Regions from separate parts of the Homo sapiens genome. Here region 2 is linked to region 1. A link means that fine-mapping ties the variant in region 1 to the expression of a gene that starts in the linked region. Tissue or cell type: esophagus muscle. Region 1 holds a variant in brackets; the other region holds the start of a gene. All regions are shown on one strand. Distances are between the middles of the regions.

Region 1 (5,149 bases):
TCACTATCAGCATTTGGGTCACAACAATTTAAAAGTCTCTAGGAAGTTCCAAATTTTCCCCCATCTTCTTGTCTTCTTCTGAGCCCCCCACATTTTTCCAACCTCTGCCCATTACCCAGTTCCAAAGTTATTTCCGCATTTTCAGGTATCTTCATACGAATGCCCCACTTTTCAGTACCAATTTTCTGTATTAGCCTGTTCTCACATTCCTGTAAAGAAACACCTGAGGCCAGGCCCGGTGGCTCATTCCTTTAATCCCAGCACTTTGGGAGTCCGAGGCAGCTGGATCATGTGAGGTCAGGAGATCAAGACCAGCCTGGGCAACATACTGAAACCCCATCTCTACTAAAACTACAAAAAATTAGCCGGGTATGGTGGCAGATGCCCGTAGTCCCAGCTACTCGGGAGGCTGAGGCAGGAGAGTCACTTGAACCCCAGAGGCGGAGGTTGCAGTGAGCCAAGATTGCACCACTGCACTCCAGCCTGGGCAACAAGAGTGAAACTCCGTCTCAAAAAAAAAAAAGATAAAAAGAAACACCTGAGACTGGGTAATTTATAAGAAAAGAGGTTTAATTGGTTTACTGTTCTGCAGGCTGTACAGGAAGCATAGCTGCTTCTGCTTCTGTGCAGGTCTCAGGAAACTTACAATCATGGCGAAAGGCGAAGGGGAAGCAGACACAACTTACCTGGCCAGAACAAGAGAAAGGGAGAGAGGGGGCAGGTGCCACACACTTTTCAACAACCAGGCCTCACAAGAACTCACTCACTATACAGTCCCAAGTAGAGGATGGTGCTAAACCCTTCACGAGCACTCCACCCGCACGATCCAACCACCTCCCACCAGCCCCACCTCCAGCAGCAATGGGCACTCCACCCGCACGATCCAACCACCTCCCACCAGCCCCACCGCCAGCAGCAATGGGCACTCCACCCCCACGATCCAACCACCTCCCACCAGCCCCACCTCCAGCAGCAATGGGCACTCCACCCCCACGATCCAACCACCTCCCACCAGCCCCACCTCCAGCAGCAATGGGCACTCCACCCCCACGATCCAACCACCTCCCACCAGCCCCACCGCCAGCAGCAATGGGCACTCCACCCGCACGATCCAACCACCTCCCACCAGCCCCACCTCCAGCAGCAATGGGCACTCCACCCACACGATCCAACCACCTCCCACCAGCCCCACCGCCAGCAGCAATGGGCACTCCACCCCCACGATCCAACCACCTCCCACCAGCCCCACCTCCAGCAGCAGGGATTATAATTCCACATGAGCTTTGGTGGGGACACAGATCCAAACCACATCACATTCTAATAGAATGACCTGGAGTCTCTATATTTGGTTAGATTTCTTGTGCTTTTCTTCCCTTCTATACCTGTAATAGCCTACAGCAAAATCATGTTTACTGATTTTAGAATGATGCCCCTTAGGTTTGTCAACCTTAGATAGAAAGATTCAGAAAATACGAGTTAGCATGGAGTTTATTTGAGCACAAGCCCTGAGGATGACCACCTGGGAGCACAGATTTGAATTTCCCTGAGTATGCACCCAACCAGCAGCAGGTACCTGGTTGGGGGCGGGGGGTTTAAGGAGGAAAGAAAGGGCAGTTCCTGAGTTGTTTATCAAAAATTTACATTAAAACAACGTAAGCTATTGATTGACTATACATTTTTCTTTGTCTCACAGACTCCAGAAACATGAAAATAATGGGTGACACAGCAGTCAGGAACAAAATGCCTTAAACAATTGCCCCTGTGGCATGGGGAGCAGAGTGACTGAAGTTAGTCCCACACTCATGTCCTGATACATTTTGCATCCTTCAAATAGTTCAGACTGCTCTGAGCTATTTTTCTTTCCTCAGGTTAAACCTTCCATCGTTGTATTTCCTCTACCACACTTACTAATTGGTTAAACTGATAGGGCTCATAAATATTGTGTATTACCTCACACGACAAAATGGACTTTGCAAGGGGTGATTAAGTTAAGATGGGTTATGTGGGTGGGTATGATGTAATCACAAGAGTTCTTACAAGTGAAAGAGGGAGGCCGGGGGGTCAGAGTCAAAGAGACTGGAAGACGCTACGCCGCTGGCTTTGAAGATGGAGGAAGGAAAGAAGGAAGAACAGTGAGCTGGGAGTGCAGGTGGCCTCCTGAAGCTGGGAAAGGCCAGGGACGGGATTCTCACCTAGATGCTCCAGGAGCACAGCGCTGCTGACACCTTGATATCCTGCAGAGACCCATTTCAGGTAGTGATCGGAGGTTAGCAAACAAAATTAGAACTCTGCCAAATGTGTACATGCC[A/C]GAGGCTGGCTTGTCTAACAGAAGACATTCTGTTTATTTTCCTCCCCTTACATTCTCTCCCAGTATTTGCCCTTGTTAAAGAAGCTAAAATTTCAGGACCCTCTAAAGTTACTACAAGGGGGAAGTTAAGCCCTGGAGACTGAGTCACAGAGCATGTTTGCAATTCTGCAATACTGAGTTTTGTGAAATTCAGTGTGTAAAAATCTTTGTTTTGTGGTTTTAAAAGATAATTCCGTCCTTAAACTAGTTCCTGAAATACGGTCAGGAAAACAAGACTTGGATTTTCAGTATGACCAGAATATTAAACATGCCAAGTGGTTTCTCAAGAATTTAAATTACTCTGAAAGGAAGAGAGAACAATCACCCTTCTCACTGATTAGAGTGAGGTGGTATTGTCGCCACAGGAGAGCAGTTTACAAAGTTAGAGAATTCTGTTGGCTGAAACTGCAAAATGTTGAGGCTTTGAAAGAGCAAAGGCAGTGATTAAGAAGTCAATGATTGGCAGATACGTCTTTGTTGTCATTTTACAAAGACAGTTCTCAAGTTTGGAATTAACATCTATCCAAACATCAAGTCTCAATTCATCTTGCATTTCTCCACACCCTGTGGCTGCAAATCTGCTCCAGCGCTGCCTTGGAGACCTGTCCAGGTGCACCTGGACGCCACAGACGGGGCCATAAGCGTCGCCTGCAGAGTTGGGCAGAGGAAGCTCAGAGCTTCCCCGCCGGGACATGGGCACCACAATAACACTCTTAAAAAGAAAAACCCTCTGGGTTAATACCTTTCCTTTGAATTAACCTCCATCCAGGTAAAAAATGATTGATAATTAATGTTTGTTAATTAAAATTGAGGCATTCTGTTGGCTTATAAATGTTAAGCTTCGTGGCACTTACTGATGTGGAAAATAAGACCCAGCAAGGCTAACTTACCTAAGCAAGTTCCCAAAGCCGCACCTAAAACCAAGTCCCTGAGCTGACAATGGCCTCTTGGGTGTTGTACCCATTTGTGAGTATACCTGGGGTTTTAAGGCAAAAGCAGGCTGTGGGGACACCAAGAACATCAGCCTGGGGTTTGCAGCTTCCCCACTCTCCATGCCTCTTCAGAGACAATGCCCTCTGGGTGGCAGTGATCGAGTTCTGCCAGTGCGGGGAAGCTCTGCGGGGTGAAGGGAAGCCTGGAGAGGAATCTGCCAGGCCTGGCGTCCCAAGCATCACCTCCTGAAACTTCAGTAAAAGGACTGGGAGGCTACGGGAAGCAAGCTGAGCCACCCGGACAGAGCATCCTGAGGTGCCGGACGCCTTTTCTTCCTAGCATCCTGTCCCACCACCCCCAGGACACTGCAACACTAGTCATCCTGCACAGGCTCCCGCTGCAGCTTCTCAAAGACTGCTGTCCACAGACACGGGTCCAGCCCCGTCGACATGAGGGTAACAGCCAATTCAGAAGTGTCATAATCTCTAGCTGGTTATCTGATTATCTTTTTAGTATATCAAATTAACTGAATAATGCCCTCGTTTTGTGTTAGGTGGATATGAACTTTGTCATGAGCCATGAAAGTGTTCACTGGTCTCAATTTTGATGTCAAATTTGGGAAAGCACTTTCTAGTACAAGTTGTTCTTCTGATTGACTCATCCACGTGTACTTTGGTCTCCTGTGCCAGTGTTCTGCCAGGAGCGGGTGACGGAGTGCAGATTGTGGAGGGCCCTGCGAACACAGGCTTGACGCCTGTGGAGGCCACAGTGGCGGTCCTCAAACGGACGCCAAGATGGAACTGAAGGATTTGGTTGAACCAGTGGATAGGGGAGGGAGTGGAGGTGGGAGAAGGCCCAGGGCATTCAGGGAATGCAAAGAAACCTAGTCTGGCTGGAACGCAGTGAGTGAGGGCCCATAAGATGAATGAGGAAAAGCTTCCTACAGTGATGTGTGAAAAAAACAACTGCCTCTGGATAGTTTGCAATGCTTACAGGTGTTGCTCAGTGTCAAAAATATTTTATTAACACACAGCTTGCTTATGCCAAGACATGTTATCATTATTGTCTGAAACATAGTGCTGAGGATAATTTTTAAAAATGACAGCAGTATATCACTGAAAAAAAGCAGGAAATCATCTAATCTGGAGATAGACACACACACACACACCCCCCACACTGGTGCACACCCCCCCACAGACACACTACACATCGCACACTAGTCCACACACACCACACACAACATACCACACCCCACATACTAGTGCAAACCCAACAGACATACTCCACACAATATACCACACACACACCCCACAGACACACACACCACACACTAGTGCACACCCCTCACAGACACACTACACACTGCACACTAGTCCACACACAACATACCACACACATACCCCACAGACGTCACACACCACACACTGGTGTACACAACACAGACCACACACACACACCACAGCCCCCCTGCCCAACACCACACATATAACTATGCTTATGAATTGCTGATTTCAGTGAATGTGGCACTTGGTGATTGGTTACATTCTTCTTGATCAGTCCTCCTTATTCTGAGTTACTTTGTATGTATTGAGAATTATACATTATTTTGCCACAATTTATGATTTGATGAAAATATTGGGAAAAACATGAGAAAGAGTGATGGGGTGTTGGAATTGTGGGCTCCTTAAAATTTCTCCTCAGCCTTGTAGAAAATGAGAAAATCTCCAAGTGTCTGGTTAATTTGCCTGGGTACTTCAGTCAGCCGGATCTTTTTTGTTTGTTTGTTTTTGAGACAAGATCTCCCTCAGTCACCCAGGCTGGAGTGCGTTGGTGTGATCTCTGCTCACTGCAGCCTAAACCTCCCAGGCT
Region 2 (5,149 bases), 51 kb before region 1:
AAATTCCTATCAGGTAAAATAGTTTAGCTTTAGAACCTAAAAAGATCAAGTTCTCTCATGCAACAAACTCACTCATGAAAACCTTCATTCTCTGATGATAATACATAAATAGGCTGTCACTATTACACAGAATTTCTGGAATTTTTTTGGATTAAATAATAAAATTAAATAATTTCAATTTTTAATATCTGCACATAATTACAGTAACATAATCAAAATTTATAAACTTATTTTAGTCTGAGAACTTTTTAATTAAAATGCACAAATAGACCGGATGCTGTGGCTCACGCCTGTAATCCCAGCACTTTGGGAGGCTGAGGTGGGAGGATCACTTGAAGCCAGGAGTTCAAGACCAGCCTGGGCAACACAGTGAGACCCCCGTCTCTACACAATTTTTTTTTTAAATCAGCCGATCATGGTGGCACACGCCTGTGGTCCCTGCTACCTAGGAGGCTGGAGGATTGCTTGAGCCGCAGTGTGAGGCTGCAGTGAGCCGTGATTGCGGCTGCTGCACTCCAGCCTGGGCAACAGAGCAAGACCCTGTCTCAAAAAATAATAATAATTTAAAAAGCACGAATATTCTAGCAATACTTCATTAGTATACCTACAGATTATAATAGATTTTTAAAAACCAATAATCCAACCTTTGCTGTCAAGGAAGATATATCCATCAAAACGATCTCTAAAAAGAAGGATGTCATCAGGATTCCTAAAATTAATGTATGCTCTTGAGTAGAGATGAGGATAAAGACTGAAATAAGAGATAACAGTGAAAATGGTCAGTGAAAAATACAATAGTCCATTAATTTAGCCTCTTTTTCCTTTTCTGGGCACAACAAACTACTTTAGATAAAACTTTTGTGCCAAATCATCTCAGTTAATTGTAACAACTTGGATATTCTTTAGCAAAAACAAACGCAAAACGTTAACTTTACAAGGCAGAACTCAGGTCCCTTCTCCACTGCCCAGAACCGGTCCTCCGAGGCTGAAACCCTAAGGCAAGGCCAGGGCGCACTCCCAGAGGAACCCGTGGCGCCGAGAGACTCTCCTGACTTGGGGACCTTCTCCGGTATTTAAAACCGCACTGGCTGCGGCACCAGCGTGGAGGCCACAGGAAGAGCCGGCGCCCCCCGGCCCCGCAGCGCCCCGTCCGCGGACGAGCAGGGAAGCCCGGGAGGCGCCGGGCGGGCAACGCTGGTCCTTTCAAAGGCACCCGCTTTCCTAAGCGTTAGCCGTCTGAAAATCATCCGCATTTTTCATGTAAACCACATCTGTGTTTCTTTGTTGGTGGTATTTTTCTTTGACGGAACGGACACGTTTTACTGAAATGTATTTATTCAAAAAGCTCACACGACTCCCATATAGGAGAAATCAGGGTAAGGAACGTAAGGCAACGAGACGGCCACCGCCGCCGAGCTCTGGGTTCCGCCCTCTCTTCCTCCCCTCGGGGCGGGCCTCACCTCAGGTCGGCGGCGAAGAACTCGAAGTAGTCGTGTGCTGGCAGCGGGCGCAGCTGCTCCTCCAGCTGCTCCTTGGTGAGGCCCGGAGGCAGGCGGCGGATGACCACCTGCGGGGAGCGCGCGGCCGTTCCCACCGGGGCGGAGCGTGGACAAGGAGCTCAAAAGGCACCGCGTACCGCGCTGGGAGGCCCGGCCCCCGCCCCTCCCTCCCCTCCCTCCCCTCCCTCCACTCAGGGCCGTCCTCTCCTCGCGAGGTTTGCGCGCCCCGCCCCCGTCCCCACCTTGCTCAGGGCCGTCCTCTTCTCCTCGCGAGGTTTGCCCGCACCGCCCCCGCAACCGGAGGACGAAGTTGGCGGCGTCTCAGCCTCCTGCTGCTGCGAGTCGCGGTGGAACTGCACTTCTAGGGCCGACAGCTTCTCCCTCCCGCTCGGGCCCCGCGCGGCAACGGCCGCCCGAAGGCCTCCGGCCCCCTCCTTTTCCGAGCGCATGCCGCACTCTCCGCCGAGCCGCAGCCGCCAGCCCCCGACGAAACCTCGCGAGAGCTCGGCCGCCCCAGCCCCGCCCCTCCTCGAGCCGCGGCGGTCGGGGCCGCCCACGAAGGGGTCAGGCGCTGCGGGACTAGTCGGGGTCGGGGTGGTGACCTCCGGCCACACAGCCTGGCTTTCCGCCGGGTCAGGCGGCCCCTCAGGGAGCGGCGGCCGCGGTTTAGGGCGGCCCCGGAAGCGGGGCGCCGGCGGCTTTGGTCCGGGCGTGGTGGGAGGAGTTCGCGGACAAGCCGCCCTCCCATCCCAGCACCGTTTTTATCCCACTCCCCCAGGCTCTCCGTGGCCGGGGCGCCATGAAAGCCGGGTTCACATTTGAATTCTTAATTTTTTTGGAGACAGTCTCGCTCTGTCGCCCAGACCGGAGTGCAGTGGCGCGATCTCGGCTCACTGCAGCCTCTGCCTCAGCCTCCTGAGTGGCTGGGACCTACAGGCACGCGCCACCACCCCTGGCTAATTTTTTTGTTTTTTTAAAGTAGAGACGGGGTTTCACCTTGTTGGCCAGGATGGTCTCGGTAACTCCTGACCTCAAGTGATCCGCCCACCTCGGCCTCCCAAAGTGCTGGGATTACAGGCATGAGCCACCGCTCCGGGCCCTTGCACATATTTTTTTATGAACACACAGGCAGCAGCACTTTGATTACAGTAACTTACATGGAAGTTATTTTAAAATGGCTTTCCCCTTCTCTTTTTCATGTAGGCTGCATTTTTCATCTGCAGCACGCTTTCTCTCAAGAATCTCAAGCACACACAAGAAACCAGAGAGTAAAATCACTGAGGCGTGAACACATCCAGAGACCAAGGGCGTCACTGGCAGAAAAGCTTTTAGGCGGATCCACGGCCCGAGAGCCACCCTGCCCAGAGACGCGGTTTCCTAGGAGCAGTTCACACGCGGCTCTGCAGCACCCACAAGCGGGGCCAGGGGCTGGTTTTCATAGTTCACAGTCTGCAGGGATCTTAACAAAAACATGGCCGTGGTAAAAGTGCCTAGACCAGGCTTTCGTCACAACTCAGTGAGTAGGAAGACTAGTTAGGCTGATGAAAAGCTCTGATGATGTGTGATTAAAAGTAGGAAAACGTGGTTGCCAAATAAAATATTTTACTATATAGTCAGGGGGAGAGATGGGGATAAAAAAATGTGGAAACCATTTATTTTAAAATTTTGACTGTTCCTGCAGTGTTTAAAATATAGGAGATATATTCTGATTATCTTTAGAAAGAAACTGCTCTCAATCTATTTGTATGTCTTCCCTCTGGTTTTAAAATATTAAACAATCATCTAACTCAATATTTAATTTTACCTCTAGTCATGTTACTAGGTTAGGATAATAAAAAGGACTGTGAACTTCACATCTGCCATCTATAATAGATTCTTATTGTAGCAATCTTGCACCAAGGGGATTTCTTTATTAACTCTGCCAAATTTTCCAAAATTACCAAATGGAGAAAAGAGCTGGTCCCATCTGTCACCAGGCACAACCAGGTCAGTAACTTAGGGTATTTCTTGTGTTCATGTTTTGCCCTCACCACTGCAAAGCCCTGTTCTCGGCCTGGTGCCTCTGCACACCTCTGAAGCCAGGTTGGCCTCAGCCAATGTGAGGGACCCTTCATTTGACCTTCCCCAGAACCTTGAGTATTTCCACTTCTCCCTTCACTGCACTGTACCCTAAAGGGACTCACATGTTTGCTGGATGTGTATATTTCGTAAACCTAGCCAGCAAAATGTCCAAATGTTTTTCCCCCCAAGTCAATTTTTTAACACCCTTCTGATTCTTTACTTCCTGTTATTGCAAAGTTCTGAAAAATGATTTTGAAAAAAAGGTAGGATTTTAGAATTCAGCTGTTTGATGAAATTATCTTTAAATAAAACCATATGAATTTTAAGATACAGTGAATGAAATACACTTGTAAAATAGCTTATGATTTTACATGACAAATTATATCACAAAGAAAAGCTAGCTTCCTACACATTAGCCAGCCTGTTGAAATGCTCTGTTTGATACATGTACAGAACTTTACAGCCAAAGCAAAGCAGGAAGAAATATCTCCAAATCCTTCTTCATGTGGGCTTTTAGTATGTAACTTTACTTTTGCTTAACTGAACACTTCCATCTGTGAATGTGGCCCTGGGCTACATTTTACTTGGTAGCCCCTATCTCATTGGTAGATGACAGTGACTTGAAGCTGGTGACCGTAACACTTCCCAGTATTTCCTTTAACGATAACACAGCCACTGTAGTTAGCAAACAGGACACCTTTTTAGGATAAACTGTGTCCTGAGATACTGAAGAATTGGGTAGTAACAGGAACAATACTTGGCAGTACGACACATTGTTTTTACTCTCAGAGGCCTAAACACTGGTGTTAACACTGCTGCTGATCCGAATTACAGCTTACTCAAGTGTCTGAACCTTTTGACATTCACTTACAGAAACCAGAAAAATTCTAACAGTGATCAATGAGAAAACTAAATGGTTTTTTTTTTTTTTTTGCTCTGGCAGGAAAAATAAATGTAAAAAACTCAGCACTTTATTAATATAATACTTTCATTTTAGTTGTTTTAAAAATAATTACCTTAAGTTCAGTCACTTGATTTTTTAGCCCCAACTCAAGACAGGGGAGGCATACATGATGCCTGACAGAGAGACAGAAAAGCCATTTAAAAATGAAAACATGAAAACGCATTAGTTTGAGTCTAATTTAGCGTGGGGTAACTCATGGTCTCTAAATGTATTACTGCATTAACTTCCAGCGCGATACCTGACTTTCACCATGATGAATGGAGACAGGATGGGGTCTGAATGCTAGTCTTCAATGCACCATACAACAGTGCTAGACCCTCATCAGTATGAAGGGGAACAAAGCCCTCCTTAAAAGATTTACTAGAGTTAACACCTGGGGATCCTCAAGAAATGAATGCTATCATTGTTCTGCTTCAGAAGGTAGAAATACAGGGAATACACTTCAGATAGGTTAAGATAAAAAGTTTTGTGTTTAAGGCAGCACCTCAGTTGCCTGGAAAATTCACTTCTGTATAATGCCTAATTTGTTAATGATGCCGTGAATAGATGCTTTCTAATAACTACACAAGTTTGTTTTTATGAAAAAGTAGAGTAACATGTCCTCTGATGTTAGTAGTAGGAGAGT

The links. PIP is the estimated chance that this variant, and not a neighbour inherited with it, causes the effect.
Region 2: it holds the start of UPF3A, and the variant in region 1 is fine-mapped to the expression of UPF3A in esophagus muscle (GTEx, PIP above 0.99). The same link has a PIP of 0.9 or more in visceral fat.

The regions. Positions count from the first base shown.
Region 1 is chr13:114,227,180-114,232,328 of GRCh38, reverse strand. No RefSeq gene overlaps it. Among named protein-coding and RNA genes, the nearest start is that of CDC16, 5.1 kb to the left of the region's middle. RefSeq lists an enhancer at 3,496-3,997. The variant A/C (reference allele first, on the strand shown) is at 2,309.
Region 2 is chr13:114,278,439-114,283,587 of GRCh38, reverse strand. UPF3A (UPF3A regulator of nonsense mediated mRNA decay) reads right to left here and starts at 1,987. Exons shown (of 10, transcript NM_023011.4): 1 at 1,742-1,987; 2 at 1,461-1,567; 3 at 645-751. The coding sequence starts at 1,948. It overlaps LOC105370384 (a long non-coding RNA gene), which reads left to right and starts at 2,519. Exons shown (of 4, transcript XR_007063887.1): 1 at 2,519-3,485. RefSeq lists silencers at 970-1,179, 1,560-1,739, 1,970-2,239 and enhancers at 1,319-2,006, 2,460-2,759.